5 linked regions of the Homo sapiens genome follow. The gene in region 3 interacts genetically with the main gene of each other region. Each region holds a gene or a part of one and is shown on either strand. Other genes may lie near its edges.

Region 1 (3,524 bases), on a different chromosome or scaffold from region 3:
GCGACAGAGTGAGACTCCATCTTGGGAAGGGAAAAAAAAAAGAAACAATATAAAATATCAGAGTCTATCACCTATATACATAAGTTCCATCTACTGTTTCATGGAACTTACGTATAAAGGTATAATTTACGAATATTTTGTTATATGTGTAGGTGTATACACAATTTATTTACTAGGTCATGATGTAAAATACATTTCTTACTATAGGTCAAATCAAAAAACTCAAAAGCCATAGTACTTGACGATATACTTAGTGCAAAGTTTTAAAAATACCTCAGTTTTCCAGGCATTACATCATATTGTTGTCTTAGTTCACTCCCTCTGAATCCCACTTAAGTTGCTTAGGTTACTTAAGTATCTTTCTTTTAATTTATGGCCCCTTTTTGTTTAGGGTTTGCATTACAACCCTTACACTATTAAAAAACTTTCATTTTTTAAATCTCTGCTTCCTATTTCTTATATAACCAATTTATTAATAAAATGCCATAGTAAGAAAAATTTGTGTCATCTGTTGCTCTGACTAGGTCACTGCCCTTCACTGGCTCCCTACTGCTTAATGCGTCTAATTCAAAAATTGCTTATTCCCTGTTTTGATGTCTATCCACAGTTCAATTCATCTAAAAATAATCATCTCATTTATTTCTCTCTGTTCTTTCTTGTTCGTTATACTCCTGATTTTAAAGGTCACCCACCTACGATCATCAGAAACATCTCGTTTACATACTATGCTTTGTTTATTTCTTCTCACATTTGAACTATCAGCTCCTAGTGGTCGGTGACCAAATTTAAGCCACCAGTAAGCTGTCACTCATCATGTTTCAGCCACAAGGAAAAAATTGGTAAAATAAAAGGATAAAAATTCTCTTTATTTTCCAAGTATTCTCCTCTTATTATTTCATACCTTGAATGACAGAATAACTATTTCCATCATAGAAAGACTAAAACTTCCCTCCAATAGCTTTATAACCTTAAAAAGGTTTAGTGAGATGATTTAAATGTGGAAAAGAATACCCAAGAAAGGCCTTCAGAGAATATGATAATAGTTTCTTCTCTACACAAAGAAGTAAACAATGTTTAGCTTTTTATAATGTAAATATCACTTAGGTAATATTTTCTCTTAATAGCAAATCTCAATTTCTATTAAAACAACACTCTAAAATCTATACAGTATAACGATGTTTTACATTATAGCTTTTTTGAGGTGTAACAGACATAAAAGAAGTTGTACTTAAATGCAAAATTTGTTGAGTTTTAAGATATGTAAGCCCGTGAAGCCATCAGTCTCCCAAAAGTTTCCTCATACTCCATTGTAATCCATCCCTTCTTGCCCCTGCACCCTAGGCAGCTGATGATCTGCTTTCTGCCACTACAGATTAGTACACATTTACTAGGATTTTTATATAAATGTAATCACATGGTATTTTTGGTCTGAGTTTTTTCACTCTGTAATTATTTTGAGAATCATCCATTTTGCTGCATGTATCAATAGTTCATTCCTCTTTATAGCTGAGTTGTAGTCTGTTGTAATGCTGTATCACTATTTTTCGATTCATCTGTTAATTGATATTTGGGTTGTTTCCAGTTTGGGGCTATTAGAAATAAAGCTGGTATGAATATTTGTACATAATTCTGTGGACACATGAAGACATATTTATGTTGGGTAAACATCTGGGAGTAAAGTGGCTAGGAAATATAGATGTGTGCTTTATTTCTTTTTTTTGAGACAGGGTCTTGCTCTGTGGCCTAGGCTGGAATACAGTGGCATGATCATGGCTCACTGCAGCCTTGACCTCTCAGGCTTAAGTGATCCTACCACCTCAGCCTCTGGAGTAGCTGGGACTACAAGTATGTACCACCATGTTCAGCTACTTTTTTAAAAAATTTCTTATTTTTGTATAGAAGAAGTCTCCCTACATTGCCCAGGCTGGTCTCAAACTCCTAGGCTGAAGCAATCCTCCCGCCTCGGCCTTTTAATTTCTAAAGAAACTACCAAATTGTTTTCCAAAGTGATTGTATCATTTTACGTTCCCATCAGTAGTATATCTTCTGTAGTAATTGCTGGTTCAAATCTTTAGATCATTTTTAAAAAGTGGATGTCTTCTTATTAATGAATTATAAGCATTCTTCATATATTCTAGATATAAATCCTTTGTCAGATACATTTTTCACAAATATTTTCTGCTAGTCTGTAGCTTGTCTTTTCATTTTTGTAACCGTTTTTCTTCAAATTTATTTATTTAAATTGATAGGTAAAATTGCATATATTTATCATGTACAACATATTGTTTTAAAGTATATATACACTGTGGAATGGTTAATCTAGCTAATTTGCATTATCTCACAGTTATCGTTTTTTGTGGTGAGAACACTTAACATCCACTCTTTCAGCATTTTTCCAGAATGCACTATATCATCATTAACCATGTCACGATGTTGTATAATAGTGTAACCGTCTTTTGAAGAACAAAAGTTTTAAATTCAGTTAAAGAACAATTTATTGATTTTTTTTCTGAACTATAAGTTCATGCTTTTCTCTGTCCCATTTAAGAAATGTTTGCCAAAACAGGGTCACTACAATTTGTTTTCTTTTAGAAATTTTAAGTAGTTTTAGCTCTCACACTTAGGTCTATGATCCACTTCCAGTTAATTTTTGTAAATGGTATAATGTAACAGTTGAGGTTCATATTTTTACATATGACTATTAACTGTTTCAGCACCATTTGATGAAAAAGATTACCCCTTCTTCAACTAAATTAGCATCTCTGTCAAAAAATTAATATATCATATATATATGAATCTACTTCTGGAACTTCTTATTCGGCTCTACTGATCTATGTCTGCTTATGCCAAACAATAGTAAATTGACTATAGTATAATAAATCTTAAAATTTGTAGAATAGTAAATTCTCTCCAATATTGTGCCTCTTTGTCAAAGTTGATTTGGCTATTCCGTGGCCTTTGCACATAAACTTTAAAGTCAGCTTGTCAATATCTACCCTCCCAAAAAAGTCTGCCAATGTTTGATAGTTTGATTAGGGTTACAATAAATCTTTTTTTTTTTTTTTTTTTCTTGGAGACAGAGTCTTGCTCTTTTGCCCAGGCTGGAGTGCAGGTGGCACAATCATAGCTCACTGCAACCTTGAGCTCCTGGATTCAAGTGATCCTCTCACCTCTGCTTCCTGAGTAAGTAGAGCTAAAGGCGTGTGCCAGCATGCCTAGCTAGTTTTTTTTAATTATTATTTTATTTTTTGTAGAGATAGGGTCTTGCTACATTCTCAGGCTGGTCTTGAACTCCTTGCCTCATGTGATGCTCCTGCCTTGGCCTCCCAAAGTGCTGGGATTACAGATGTGAGCCATTGTACCTGGCCTTCAATGAATTTTTAGATAAATTTGAGAAGACATCTTATATTTAGTTTTACAATCCATGAACATGGTTATATCTCTTCATTTATTTAGTCTGTTTACAATATTCTCTCTCTTTTTTTTATCTATAGTGATGTCAACCTTTCTTTCCTGATATTGCT
Region 2 (3,524 bases), on a different chromosome or scaffold from region 3:
CTTGAGTCTGGGAATTGGAGATCCACCTGGGCAATATGGCAAAACGCTGTGTCCTCAAAACAAAAGTTAGCTGGGTGTGGCGCATGTCTGTAGTCCCAAGCTACTCAGGAGGCTGAGGTGGAAGGATGGCTTGAGGGAGGCGGAGGTTGTAGTGAGCTGAGATTGTGCCATTGTACTCTAGCTTGGGTGACAGCCAGACCCTGTCTGAAAAAAACAAAAGGAATGAAGCTTATAGTTCTTATCCTTAAAAAAGTCAGTGTCCTGTAATCTAAGTCTGACTTTGAGTTTTTGTTAATTGAGAACTTATTATTTAAAACAACTTTAGGTAGCATTTTATTGTGATAATGTACATTATGGTGTAAAATTCATAGGGCTTGTGAAACATGAGCTGAAACATAGTTCCATTGCTAACTCTGACGCAGCAGCTTTTGTAATAAAATGCTAAAGAGAAACTGAAGCATGTGTTCTTGACTTGTATTGCTAAATAAAAAATATATAGTTGTATTACTTAATTGATATATAAAGTGGGAAGGCTAATAAAATGTTGATAGAAGTCCTTGGTGAACCTGCTTTGGGGAAGTTTTTAGTAACTTTTATACTTTGTACAGTAGAGTCTCAACTTCAGTTACTCTTCTGTAGTTGTATAAATTTGAGTGTAGTTTGAGAATTACATTGCATGACCTTGAGGGAAGTTTCATGTTTTCACAGACTGAAATTCTGGAAGAATATATTATTTAAATTTGTCATTAATTTATGAATCACCCATGGATTTTGCTGGTCTAGCCTGGGTGACAGAGCCAGACCCTGTCTGATTTTGCTGACCAAAGCAGATTAGGCACACAATCTTTATTGTAACTAAGATACGTTTTGGAGAGCAGGATGATGTGGATATGATTGAAAAGACAAAATATCTAAGTGTCACTTGATTTTGGCTTAGATAGAAAGAAATCAACCCCTAGTTTAAATGAGATTAGTGCAAGTGAAATGAGATGAAAACAGGCCTCTAGTGTGTACATAAGCTTGAATTTGAATATATGAATACATTAAAACCTGCATTTTAATTATATGCTCCTTTTATCCCACTTTTTCTTTTCCTTGTCTGTCTACGGTACTTGTTATCTTTATGAACTCTCCAGTTGTCCTAAATTTGTTACCTAGGGATTATTTGAGATTTTTTCCACATTCCCTGGCTGCTACTAGTCCTGTGTGTGGCCTTTCCCAGCGTGTTCTTACCTGTGGGCCATGATCATAGTGCTGGGCCGAGCCTACGCCATCTCACCCTTTAAAGAGCTTCTGTGTCCTCCCAGTCAGGCATAGCCAGTCCATTCTGCTTATTATAATTATCTTTCTAAAATTCTGTTTTCAACCAATACTCTTTTCAAAGGCCTCTTAAGACTTAGACTTGTCTTCACTTGGAATTAGTCTCTTTAAACATGTACTTCAGAACTGTCCAGTCTTTATCTATAACTGCTGTCATTTTTATTCTTCATTGAAAATGCTCTTCCTCCTATGAATGTCAACTTTCTTTACCTTGTATGCTTAACTATTCTATTCTGTCTTAACTTTTGTTTGATTGGCTATTCTTCTTTCTTCTCTGTTGTCTTCCAAAGCTTGATAAAAACTCATCTATCATCTTTACTAGCACTGTCAACTTTGATATTCATCTCATTCATCTAAATATTGAAATATTTTATGTTTTTGTAGAATGTTCTTATTTTACATATAAGTACATATCCTTTTGGCATAAACTTTAATGGACTATCAATACTCTGTATCCCTAGAATTTTATTATATTGGATGTCTTACATTTTTTTTTCATTTTACCTTAAACTATTACAAGTTAATGGCTGTTTTAATAACTGGATCATCAAGTGGAGTTTGGGAGTCTTAGGGTAGTTTTTTGGTATGGGTCTTTATAGTTGATCTTGATACACCATATTTCATCATCCTCTATTAACATCTAAAGTGCGCGTTAAAACTGATGATGGCTGGGCATGGTGGCTCATGGTGTCAGACACCTGTTATCCCAGCACTTTGGGAGCCAAGGCGGGTGGATCACTTGAGCTCAGGAGTTCGAGACCAGCCTGGGCAGCATAGTGAGACACTCGTCTCAATTAAAAAACAAAAACAGAAAAACAGACGATGTCTTCTCATAATCTAGAGCATCTTTTTCTTTCTTAGAGGTATGTACAATAATGGTGGTAAGTTTTAATGATTGATGACAGACTAAGTGCATTATTTTTTCTAGAATTAAATTTTTTTTCTGTCAACAGTTTTCTCAGATATGCTTATTGGTGAGAGGGGTCTTTTATTTTTTGATAAATTTTAGAGTTTGCTCTCTGACTAGTATTTTAAATCTGGAGAACTGGGTAAAGACATGTACACATGAAAAAAAGGTTGTATTTTAGTTATTTCACATTTGATACTTAGAGTAAACCTGCTTTTTAAATATATTTTTTTCTTTTAGGTGGAAGATGAAACTGTTTTACATAACATTCCTTATATGGGAGATGAAGTTTTAGATCAGGATGGTACTTTCATTGAAGAACTAATAAAAAATTATGATGGGAAAGTACACGGGGATAGAGGTGAGCCATATGCTTCTTCTCTTGGAAAAAGGGGCTAAAGAATTGAGAGACACTTTTGTTTATGAAGCATATAGGGCATGAGAAAAATTTTAATATTAAAATTAAGTTTTGCACTGAACTATAAGGGACTGAACCTGGGCCCAGGCCTAAGATTTTCAGTATTTTCCCTAACTATTTTTGGGAAAATTAGTTAGGAGGATCATGTTTGCCACCTGATAATTATGCATAGTTGGTTATAACATAATGGCAATAACATGTAAATTAAATAGAACTTGAGTGTATGTAGATTTTAAGATTCTTTAGTAGTAAAATTAATTAGGATTGGGGCTCTGCTTCTGTGGCATATAGGGGCTCCAACAGCCCCTACTACTAAAAAATACCGCTCCTCTAGGGACTACAGTACCTGAAATTCAATCCTTAGAGTCATGGTTTCAGTTTTTTGTGTCCAGGAGGCCCTGTTAAAGTGTCTGAAAGGATAATATTTGTAATATCATCATCCATTGTCATTATCAGCAGAAAGCAGGGTCTGAAATGATCAGTTAAAGGACAGATCCATTGTTTGGGAGGAGGCCAAAGCCACAATCAGTTCCTAGAAGATTCAGTTTTCTACTAGAAAGTTTTGGGGAGGGGCCATTCTACAGAAAGTAGCAGGTATTAAAGATAAGTTTGCTTCCTTTGCCTAACACCAGTCCTGAAAATGATCTTATCTTTTCCTCCCCTCATTTCAATAATAATGTTTTAGTGCCAGTTACTAGGCTATGCCTGTTTTGTCCAAGTAGAAAAAGGATACATAAACTTTTGACATTATTGCTTCTCCTGTGTGTTTCTGACATTTGATGCGTTTCAGAATGTGGGTTTATAAATGATGAAATTTTTGTGGAGTTGGTGAATGCCCTTGGTCAATATAATGATGATGACGATGATGATGATGGAGAC
Region 3 (3,524 bases):
TCGTTCCCCTGCAGGGCTTCAATATCACCTCCTATCTCAAGGGGGTAAATCTTGAAGTCGTCAACATTTGTTAATAAAACGGAGTCAGCAGTGCAGTTGCTATGGCCACCAATGGGTCACAACCAAAGGCTACGACCCAAAAAAATTACACACGTCGTTTACTGGTGGTCTTCAACCTATTCAAAAAATTAGGCAAATGTTTAAATTATCGCTTAAATAACCGAAGACACATACTCCCAATTCAAAGTGGATGTGCTGGTCTATGAAGGATGCTGCTGAGATCTGGGACCAGCGGGGCCCCACAGTCACTCATCCCACCACCCCCAGCTGCAAGAGAAGCACAGCCTGGGAATGTCCCTTGGACGTCCCCCAAAGAGTCCACACTCAACTCCTGCAGAGGTCTGGGGACAGCGGCCCTGTGTGTGCCTTGGGTGGCTGGACAAGAACAGGAACTGACCACAGCCAACACGTCCACTCCCGCACCCAGGAGAAGGGAAAACCCATGGTCAGATGCAAACAGCAGCTTTCACCCCGTGTGCAACCCACACTCTGCCTCAGCACACGAGGCCCACACGGAGGGCTCAGCCCCTCCCCAGAAAGCACCAGGTACCTTTCCTCAGACCCAAGATCCACATGGTGTCCAGCGCGTCGATCAGTGTGAGACCGAGGCCAAACCACTCACTGAAGGACCTGGACACAGGCTTCAGCTCGTCATGGCCCCATGCAAACTTGCGGTATCCTTTCCATGCATGCAGGAAGACGTCAATCACGCCCTTCTGGCGATAGTTCAGATGCACTAGTAGGGGGGAGAGAGCACAGGCCATGGCGGACGTGGTCCTGGCGTCGGCACAGATGGACACCCTCAGGCAGAGCACTGCTGTGACCCCCATGGGGCAAAGATGACGGTGGGTTTGGGACGACGGGAAGGGCGGTGGTGGGCACAGCAAAGGCCAGGGCCACAGAGGCTGCAGCAGCCCCCAGGGAGAACACAGCCTGCCAAGGGCCTGAGACCTCTGGAGACTGCACAGGATGGCACCTGTCACCCGACCACCTGACTGGGGCCCATGCACCTCCACCTGGCGCCTGGGCAGGCACACCCTCCTTGGGCCTCGGTGGCCTCTGGCCAAAGGGACAAGGGTGGCTGCCCCAAGGGCGCTGGGACAGCACAGTGAGCACAGCCTGTGGAGACGTGGGTGAGTGTGGTGCCAACTCAGAATGTGAAACACGGACGGGTGCAGACCTCGCGATGAACATCCTCGACTCAAACACGCTCCTTCTGCCACGTGGGCTTCAGGTGCTCCACGGGAATCGCACTGTGCACACGCGCTACAGTCCCTTCGTTCCCTTTTTTTAAATTTTTTTGGCTGGGCACGGTGGCTCCCGCCTGTAATCCCAGTACTCTGGGAGGCCGAGGTGGGCAGATCACCTGAGGTCAGAAGTTTGAGACCAGCCTCGCCAACATCGCGAAACCCCGTCTCTACTAAAAATACAAAAATTAGCCAGGTGTGGTGGCGGGTGCCTATAATCCCAGCTACTAGGGAGGCTGAGGCAGGAGACTTGCTTGAACCCAGAAGGCAGACGTTGCAGTGAAGTGACAAAGCAAGACTCTGTCTCAAATATACACATATATATAAATTTCTTTTTTTTTTGTAGAGATGGGGCCTCACTGTGTTGTCCAGGCTGGTCTTGAACTCCTGGACTCAAGAGATCCTTCTACCTCAGCCTCCCAAAGTGCTGGGATTACAAGTGTGAGCCACCACGCCCGGCCAACATTGACTAATGTGTGGATTGACACGTGTGTAACGGCACCAAACCACACGTCCTCTCAGGAAAGGTTCTGAGGCCTCCTTGTGCTCATGGCATGTCTATGCCTCTGCCTCTGCCTCTGCCCTCATTGATGCCGCAGAGATTGCTACACATCCCTCACAGGCCCGGGGCTGGGAGTCCTGGCTCTGGGCTCCCTCCCCACCTCAGAGACACCTGGGGGGCATGATGAGAGCAGGGCTCCAGACTCAGCGACCTGCCATGAGCCCCCACAGACAAGCAAACGACTCTGGGGGTGGCTGTCCTCAGCCCTGCTTTTCAGTCTGGAGAACGGGAGGGTGAGTGGCTTATCGTGTCAGAGGGTGTCATGAGGTTGAAAGAGGCCTCAGGTCATGCACTGAGCTTGGCCGAAGGCCCGCACCTGGGAGGCCCCCAACAAACGGTGCTGAGAATGAAGTGGCCCCCAGAGCTGCCTGGGACTGGCCAGGCCGAGACAGGGGACACAGCACGGGCAGCAGTCTCCAGGGATCCCGTGGGGCAGCCTGGCCCAGACACAAACCTCTCAGACACACCTTCTTCTGCAGCCATGTGCTCAGGGACAGCAGGCCAAGAGCCACATGGTGTCACCAAGGTTGCAGAGCCTGTGAGGACTCAGACAACAGGGGGATGCTGAAGGGCAAGGTGCACACCAGGGCGGGGGCGCCACCCACCATGGCTGAGACGAAGCCTGCACCCATCAGCCACCAGCCCCTGAGCGCCCGGGGAGGAAGGGGTGCAGGTGTGGCCTCACCTGGTGTGCCCTGTGTCCTGGCCGGTGGCAGGGGAGGCTTGGTGGGCACTTCTGCTCTTCTTGAAGGGAGCTCGGTGCCCTGCTCAGGCTCGATCACCGCTCCCCTCCAGCTTCGGGGGAGAAGGAAGGGTGTCAGCTGCCGTCAAACATTTGTGGCTCCATGTTTCCCACCCCCACGCTCCATACCCACGGCCAAGGCACAGCCCTGCACCCAAAGCGGCCCCATCATCCTGAGGTGCAGGCTGCTGAGTGGCAGGAAACACACAGTTCAGTCCTGAGCTCCCGTGCCTGAGAGCCAAGACCACAGCACTGCTCCAGGGTCAAGGCTGGCCTGAGGTCAGAGACCAGAGCTTGGAGAATCGTGAGAAATCCCTCTGCAGAGGCCGGAGGCGGGGGGCCTCTATGGTGGAGGAGTAGAGAATCTTTCATCCAAACAGGAGCACTAGTGACAGTGAGGTGGCCCCAAGATGCCAGGATGGCCACACAGACGGGGGCTGTCCCTACACACGAGACGCATGGCCACTCAAACTCCCCATCGAGTTCTGTCCAATGGCCATCAGGAACAGCTATGAGGTTGTGTAGAGGGTTTGCCGCGCAACCTCCTAACTGTGGCTGGGCCCGAGCGTTCTCTTGGGGCCCTGTGGTGAATCTGTCCCAGGATCAGCAAAAGGCCTCTTACAACCACAGATGGCTTACATGCTGGGAGTACAAACGTGGCACTTTTGACAAGCTGAGGTCAAATCCTCTTTTGCTCTGGAAGTAAAGCGTCCTTGCATTCATGCCAACGCTAACTAGAGCACAGTGGCCCTCAAATTCTCCTCCTGGCCGTGAGGACCCCTCACATGCACATGTCCACGCCTCTCACCACGCGCTTGAGTTCAGGGCCTCTGGGCCCGTTTCTTCGGAGCCCATCTCTCACGGCGGACAGCGCTTGTCTCAGGCCACTCCTGCACAGCAGCCCTCACTGGCC
Region 4 (3,500 bases), on a different chromosome or scaffold from region 3:
AAGAGGAGGTAATTGTTAATCAGTGGTTCATATATCTGTGACAAAAGAGAAAAGTGGGAAAAAGGAAGCTCCAGCCCATATTTTCTGGCCCACAGGCCCTCCCCATCCTAGGCGGGCTAACCATCTAAGGCAGGTGAAGGGCAAGGCTCAGGTGGGCAGCTTGTCAGCATTCCTTCTGCTTAGCTATCATACTGGAGACCCTGGGTGGAGATTATGAGTTATGAGTAATTGAATAAACACTTCCCAAGGGAAAAAATAGTTCCCAGAGGAATCTAATTCACAAGCTACAAACCAGACCTATGGAATCTGGACGTGGCACTGACCAGCATTTCAAGGCCCTGAATGGCAACTAATCAAGTCACACAGAGGGCAGGCCTGTCTGACTCTCCAGTGGCCCAGAGAGCTGTCCCAGTCCTCTATCCTCACATATGTTAGGTTAAGCTAGTTGATGGTTCATTTTTTGGCTGTCTGATCAGAAGTTCAAGAACCTTAGGATTTAGTGGGGACATAAAAGATGAGAATTTGGCATTAAAGGCCTTCCTTAGAAATGACAGCAGAGTGCAAATAAGATGCCCTCAGACTTCTTTCCTTCCCATCTTCTTCTGTGGACCTTAAAAAGGGAAGACGAAGTCAACAGAAATCCAGTTTGATGTCAATTTGAAAATAGCTCTGCAGCCCTTTATCCTGCATGGAAGGCTTAAAGATGTGATGAGGACTTGACAGCTAACGGGAAACTGACCCAGCCTTTTTCCTACCTCAGGGGAAATACCCAACCTCAATTCCTCCATGTTCAGCTTGGAAAACAATAAAGACCAAAACCTTGAATTGGGCCTCTGGCGGTCCAGTGATGATAACCATACGAACTTTGGAGTCAGGTGTTTCGGGTGGTGCAATCTAAAAAGCAAAAAGCTAGTCAATGAGGGACCCTCTATGGGAAGACCCCCACCATGTCCACTTCATCCAGTTCCCCTTCTACCACCCTTACTCCCAACTACCCATTCTGAAGACTTAGGGGAGGAAGAACAAAGACCCTGAAGCCCACATCATTACGCCTTCACACCAGAATTATTAGGAGGGCAGAGGTGGTCAGTTAGAAGGATTGGCTTCAATGACACTTTCTAAGTAGGGCCTCCTGCCCCCTCCACCTACCAATCTCCCAGAGAGGTTTCAGTGGAGTCTTGCCAACAGGCAAGGACACAAATGAAATGACCAACGGATAGAGGGCAGTGACTGCACCTCCACTGGAGAACAATCAAGGTTTTTGCTCAAAGCTTTTAAGACAACTAAAGCAACCGGATTTAGGTTTGTGAAACTCTAACAGCATCCTTGTTTCACTATGACAGATTCTCCCTTCTCTCTCCCCTGGACCTTGGCCAGGGAAGGTGACAGACAACTAACACTTACTTGGTGTTAGTATGTGAGCGAAGGGCTTTGGCTGCGTAGCCTCATAATATTGTACTGACGAGGAAAGTGAGGCTCAGATCATATAGTGTATTGGGGGAAGGGGTGATGAGATGGATCTTGGATTTGAACCCATCAGTTTGTGTTAGAACCTAAGTTCTCTTTCTATGTTATAACCCTGCCCCTGCCCAGCCTGAAAACCCAGAAGCACTGAAGCCATCCCATGGGGACCAAGCAAGATCAAAAACAAAGAGGACTTCGATTCCATGGGGGAAAGGTCCCTCATATGACACACAGAATTCTCAAATGAGTAGGGGGAATATGGGAGAAAGTGCAGAGTGATAAAAGCAGAGACCCCTCCCTTTCCAGAAACAGGAAGACCCACAGAGCAGATCACCTTGATGGAGGCGCTGGCAAACCGGGAGAGCTGTTTGATGTGCTGCCCCTTCTTGCCGATGATGGCGCCCACTGCCTGGGCGGGGATAAACACCTGCACCATCTCCTGCTCGGGAGCCTGCTGCCAGGATAGGAGGCGTTGTTACCAGGGGGCCCAAGTAGCATGGCCCAGAAACCCTCCACTCCCCTGCCTTGCATCCTCAAGGAGGAAGGAGTACAGGCACCAAACCGCCACCCTGGGCTGCCAAGGGATGCTGTGAGCTCTTTAGCTCTTCCTATGCCCAGTAGGGCTAAAGGGAAGAGGCCAGGAGAGAGTAAGGGAACAGTGCTGTCTATGCCCCGGGAGCATTCTAGGCAGACATTTGGGAGCCTCAGAGCCAGTGGCTAGGAGCACTGGAGAGGAGGGATGCCTCTGAGACCTTCCTTCCCTCTCCCTGCAAACTTGCCAAGCATCCAACTCCCAGAGCATGCTGAGTCCCCCTTAAGGGAGGCCACATATGGGCCCAGGGATCCCGTGTAATAAGATCTTCCACCTACCATAAAGGAGCTATAGGGAGCAGCCCCAGTAACGCTGCTGGGAGGCGGCGGGACTGCGCTGGATGAAGCTGGGAAAAGACCTACAGCAGCCAGGTTCAGGCCAGGGATCAGGTGAGACTGCAGCTGGGGAAGAAAGATGAGGAGGAAGAGTCAGCACACCCTGACAGGGGCTTGTGTGTGACCCCCGCTGTATAAAAGGCGAGTAGCCCCAGAGGCAAGTGGGCCAAAAACATGAATTACATACTTTTCCACAAAAGCCTATTCTGTGCTTTTCATACACTCTCACCTACACACTTCGGGTGTGGAATTTTAAGTGATATGATGTTCTCACTGGACTAACGGCTAGCAATTGCAACCAGAAATGCCAAACAGTTGTACACCCTCAGGAGTCCTTCCTCTCTGGCTGTTCAGACTGCTGGAGACAGACGATAGACCCATGACACTATACTATAACCCCCTATATGAGAAAAAGGCGTGGAGACAGAGCTCCATTGGACTTCTAGGACTCTGATTCTAAACATTTTTGGTCCTGTACCCCAACCCCAAGTCTCCTTTAAAAATCAGATGAGTTGTGTGCAGTGGCTCATGCTTATAATCCTAGTACTTTGGGAGGCCAAGGTAGGAGAATCGCTTGAGCCCAGGAGTTCTAGACCAACCTGGGTGACACAGCAAGACCCTGTTTCCAAAAAATAAAATTTTAAAAAATTAGCTGGGCATGGTGGTGTACACCTGTAGTCTCCTAGGTACTTGGGAGGCTGAAGCAGGAGTATTCCTTGAGCCCAGGGGGTCAAGGCTGCAGTAAGCTATGATTGCGCCATTGTGCTCCAACCTGGGCAACATACCAAGACCCTGTCTCAAAAAAATAAAATAAAAATCAGATGAAAACGATGGACCCCCTCATTTCAATAAAGTGCACACAAACACAAATTGTACACATACTTGGAATCACAGGACTCAAAGCCCAAGATTGGACCCCTACTCTAGGAACCAGGTGAAGAATCCTTGCTAATTAAATACTATTTAAATACTATTTCTGATAGTCGAAGTCCAAAAGCATCAACTAAAGCTCCAAGGCCACACGGCACAGGGCACATGTCCATCACCCTGCACCCCACAAGCTGCTGTTGCTAAGACTCAGGAAAGGATAAGCAGAGGGTACTACCCAG
Region 5 (3,524 bases), on a different chromosome or scaffold from region 3:
TCAGGTCTAGAGTGAGGCTCAAGATGCTGCATGGTTCTCAAACTCGGCTCTATGTTAGAATCACGGGAGAAACTTTTAAAATGCTGATGCCCAGGCTGCACCTCATGCTAATTAAATTAGAATCTCTGAGGACAAGACCTAAAGAAAGTGTAGCTTTTAAAGTTCCCCTGGTGATAACAATACGTAGGCAGCTGCAGACCAGTGCTCATCAGTGGTTCCTACACTTTCATGTGCCCTAGAATCTCCTAGAGAGCTGCATTCCCGGGGTTTCCGATTCAGGAGGTCTGGGTAAGGCCTAGAAATATACAATTCCAATCAGTTCCCAGGAGCCCCTAAGGCTGCAAATCTGGACACCACCACATGTTGAGAACCACTGCTCCACACTCTGGCCTGTGAATACAATACTGACTCAGGCTTTGAGTCAGTACAACCTCTAGGCTGAGTGCACTTGGAGTTAGTCACAAAGTATGGCCACTTAGCCAGGTTTATCCTAGTTGTTTCAGCATTCAGACCCTGTTTTCCCCAATTCTCAAAAGGAAGTGCCCTGATGAAGGCCAGATAGTCCATGCTGCTTGCTTTCTTGGCCTGGTCTCTGTAAAAGTGTTAACAACTCTAAGGAAGAAATAAGTTACTCTGAAACGACTTATTTGTAGTGAACTCTTGAGCCCTCCTACTAATCACTACTTCCCTCTCCAAGGAGCCCACAGGCCCTCCCCAGTCACTGAAACCATAGCCCAGAGCTACCTGAAAGCTTCTCTGAGTTGGCCTTGCCCATTCCTATGGCTCCATCACTAATTTCTCTTTCCTTAAAATAACACTGTCACTCTGCCCAGGTTTTCACTGTCAACATACCCAGTAAGATTTGCACAACACTTCATCTCCAAAAGTCCAGTTTGATCAAGGGCACAAGCATAAATATCAATGCAGTGACCATTTGCAGCTGTTCGATTAGCAAGCATCTCATAGTGCTGTGAAGAGAGGAAAGCTATCTTTAGGAAACAGTGACATTATTCCCAAGGTATGCCTGAATTACCGAAGGAGGTAATCAAATATAAAAACATGTAAATCATTTTCTTTTCTCTTTTTGTGACAGAGTCTCTCTCTGTTGCCCAGGCTAGAGTGCAGTGGTGCGATCTCCACCTCCCGGGTTCAAGTGATCATCCTGCCTCAGCCTCCCAAGTAGCTGGGATTAAAAGCGTGCGCCACCATCCCCAGCAAATTTTTGTATTTTTATTTTTATTTACTTTTTGAGACAGTCTCACTCCGTCACCCAGGCTGGAGTGCAGTGGCACGATCTCAGCTCACTGCAACCTCTGCCTCCCAGGTTCAACGGATTCTCGTGCCTCAGCCTCCCGAGTAGCTGAAATTACAGGCACATGCCACCATGCCCAGCTAATTTTTGTATTTTTAGTACAGACAGGCGTTTCGCCATGTTGGCAAGACTCGTCTCGAACTCCTGACCTCAAGTGATCCGCCCACCTTGGCATCCCAAAGTGCTGGGACTACAGGCGTGAGTCACCACTCCTGGCTTAAATTTTGTATTTTTAGTAGAGATATGGTTTCACCACGTTGGCTAGGCTGGTCTTGAACTCCTGACCTGAAGTGATCTGCCAGCCTCGGCCTCCCAAAGCGCTGGGATTACAGCCGTGAGCCACCGGGACTGGCCTGGAAATCATTTTCAAAAATATCTGAATAAAATAAAAATATAGTTTTCATTCTCAAAACCCTTTGAGTAGTTTTAAGGCCACCCACTCTAATTAAGGTCTGAAAGTAGGAGCAATAATTTAACAGCAGCTAAGATTGGAAAACTGTCTCTGAAACAGCGTCTTGCTGACCATGACACATGACCTTGGCAAAGTAGCTGTCACTCCAGAGCAGCCCAAACCTGACAATGGGCTTTCAGAATTACAGCCCATACCCAAGAGCACCTACCTTGGTTGCCTTTTTCATGAATCGTGCATTATCTTTCTCAATATCATGCCAAGAACGAATAGGAATCTTTAATTCATCTCCAACCACCATGCCAGGCCCTTGGGTAGGGGGACCTCCAGTAAACAGCATGATCCTGGCTCCTGTGTTTGGAAAAGTGCCCTAAAATAGCGAATGGCAGCATGTTAGAAGTATACAGCCTCACCTTTTAGTATGGTTTCAGTTTCCCAATAGAAATACTCCAAAGATGCATTCTCTCCAGCTGTCCTAAAAAGTGGTGATAATGCAGAATAATACAGATGATAATGCAGAAAAGCAGCACTTGTCTTCTTCCAACCTTATGGGTTTGCACAGTTTTATTAATTCGCTGTTTGAGTGCTCCCTATTGCTCTAATTCTTAGTTTTTCAATGAAAACTTTTGGCATTTTCAAAATGTTGAGGGGCTCCCTCAACGTGAATGATAATGATGCCTCAAATGCTTTCTGATACATTAACACAGACGGTTGACTTAGATCACAAGTGATTTTCAAACAAAGCCAACAAATATATTTTCTGAGAGCACATTTGTATGATTTGAGAGGTCCTGGTAAATTTTAAATTACCTCCAGCAAGCCAACAGCAATGGACAAAGCCACACCAGTGGATCGCAAAGGTCTCTTCCCCTGAGTTACTGGCCATGGGTCCCTCTGTAGCTCCCCAAGAAGATCAGTGAGGTTCATATCAATCTTGTGAACAGGCTGCAGAAATCTGCAAGATTTTAACAGACACATCAACCCAGATTGAATAAAGTACTCTGGTCTTCAACACTAGGTGCCACATAATTACTGCTCTTCAAGATAATTATTCAGAGTAGTAACTGACTGGTAATTTTTTTCTTCAAAGCTATCTCTCTACTAACACAAAACAATTTAAAGCAGTTTTATTGAGGAATATAAAGCCCAGTACTTAGCAATTTACTTATGTTGCACGGAAAAAAAAATTGTCTGGAAAAGGAGCAATTCAGTTTAATTAATTTTTAGACAGCAAAAAAATCCTAAGGACATGCCTAACATGAGTTCAGTCTATGTGAGGTCCATTTATGTGGACAATCTTCATCATTCCTCATCATTCTAATCTGTGCTTCTCTTAAGCCTTGAAAGTAAGAGGTTGTCTTCAGCATGTCGGGCAATGCATTTTATCGAGCTTGTTAGCTCAGTCTAGGCACTCAATGGGCTGAGTCAAGTGAATACCCGGTCATAAGTATGTTTGAGGACACATGAAAGAAGTCTTTTCAGTTTTTCCAGTTTTACTTAAGCATCAAAAAGGACATCAGATGTGGAATGTCTAAAAACAGCAATTGAGCACAGTGGTCTCCAAACCTTTTTGACAAAACACTGAATATTGATTAGGCTTAATCATTTATCTTTTTCTCTAATAATAAGAAAATACAAATTCTAATATTTTTCTTCCCTTACTCCCATGGATCATCTGCATGTCCATCACAATACGTGTAACACTCCATGTTGGGCTCTCACCTGCTTGAAGCAAAAGGGTGCTCCTGTGGTTGTGCAGGTCGTGCTTGCTGCATGGGCATGGCTGGCTTGGTCAGGCCCAAC

The links.
Region 1: changes in MAN1B1 (region 3) and RAB2A together harm fitness more than expected from each alone (negative genetic interaction), as found in Homo sapiens cells (one large-scale study listed by BioGRID).
Region 2: changes in MAN1B1 (region 3) and EZH2 together harm fitness more than expected from each alone (negative genetic interaction), as found in Homo sapiens cells (one large-scale study listed by BioGRID).
Region 4: changes in MAN1B1 (region 3) and IGF2BP1 together harm fitness less than expected from each alone (positive genetic interaction), as found in Homo sapiens cells (one large-scale study listed by BioGRID).
Region 5: changes in MAN1B1 (region 3) and SEC23B together harm fitness less than expected from each alone (positive genetic interaction), as found in Homo sapiens cells (one large-scale study listed by BioGRID).

The regions. Positions count from the first base shown.
Region 1 is NC_000008.11:60,586,479-60,590,002, reverse strand, and holds part of RAB2A (ras-related protein Rab-2A), read right to left. Parts: intron 1-3,524.
Region 2 is NC_000007.14:148,828,792-148,832,315, reverse strand, and holds part of EZH2 (histone-lysine N-methyltransferase EZH2), read left to right. Parts: intron 1-2,467; coding exon 2,468-2,588; intron 2,589-3,435; coding exon 3,436-3,524. UniProt on the Homo sapiens protein: Polycomb group (PcG) protein. Catalytic subunit of the PRC2/EED-EZH2 complex, which methylates 'Lys-9' (H3K9me) and 'Lys-27' (H3K27me) of histone H3, leading to transcriptional repression of the affected target gene.
Region 3 is NC_000009.12:137,096,968-137,100,491, reverse strand, and holds part of MAN1B1 (endoplasmic reticulum mannosyl-oligosaccharide 1,2-alpha-mannosidase), read right to left. Parts: intron 2,665-3,524; coding exon 2,555-2,664; intron 797-2,554; coding exon 611-796; intron 1-610. UniProt on the Homo sapiens protein: Involved in glycoprotein quality control targeting of misfolded glycoproteins for degradation.
Region 4 is NC_000017.11:49,042,385-49,045,884, reverse strand, and holds part of IGF2BP1 (insulin-like growth factor 2 mRNA-binding protein 1), read right to left. Parts: intron 2,458-3,500; coding exon 2,335-2,457; intron 1,919-2,334; coding exon 1,799-1,918; intron 895-1,798; coding exon 820-894; intron 1-819. UniProt on the Homo sapiens protein: RNA-binding factor that recruits target transcripts to cytoplasmic protein-RNA complexes (mRNPs). This transcript 'caging' into mRNPs allows mRNA transport and transient storage.
Region 5 is NC_000020.11:18,524,940-18,528,463, reverse strand, and holds part of SEC23B (protein transport protein Sec23B), read right to left. Parts: coding exon 3,444-3,524; intron 2,677-3,443; coding exon 2,532-2,676; intron 2,092-2,531; coding exon 1,933-2,091; intron 969-1,932; coding exon 853-968; intron 1-852. UniProt on the Homo sapiens protein: Component of the coat protein complex II (COPII) which promotes the formation of transport vesicles from the endoplasmic reticulum (ER).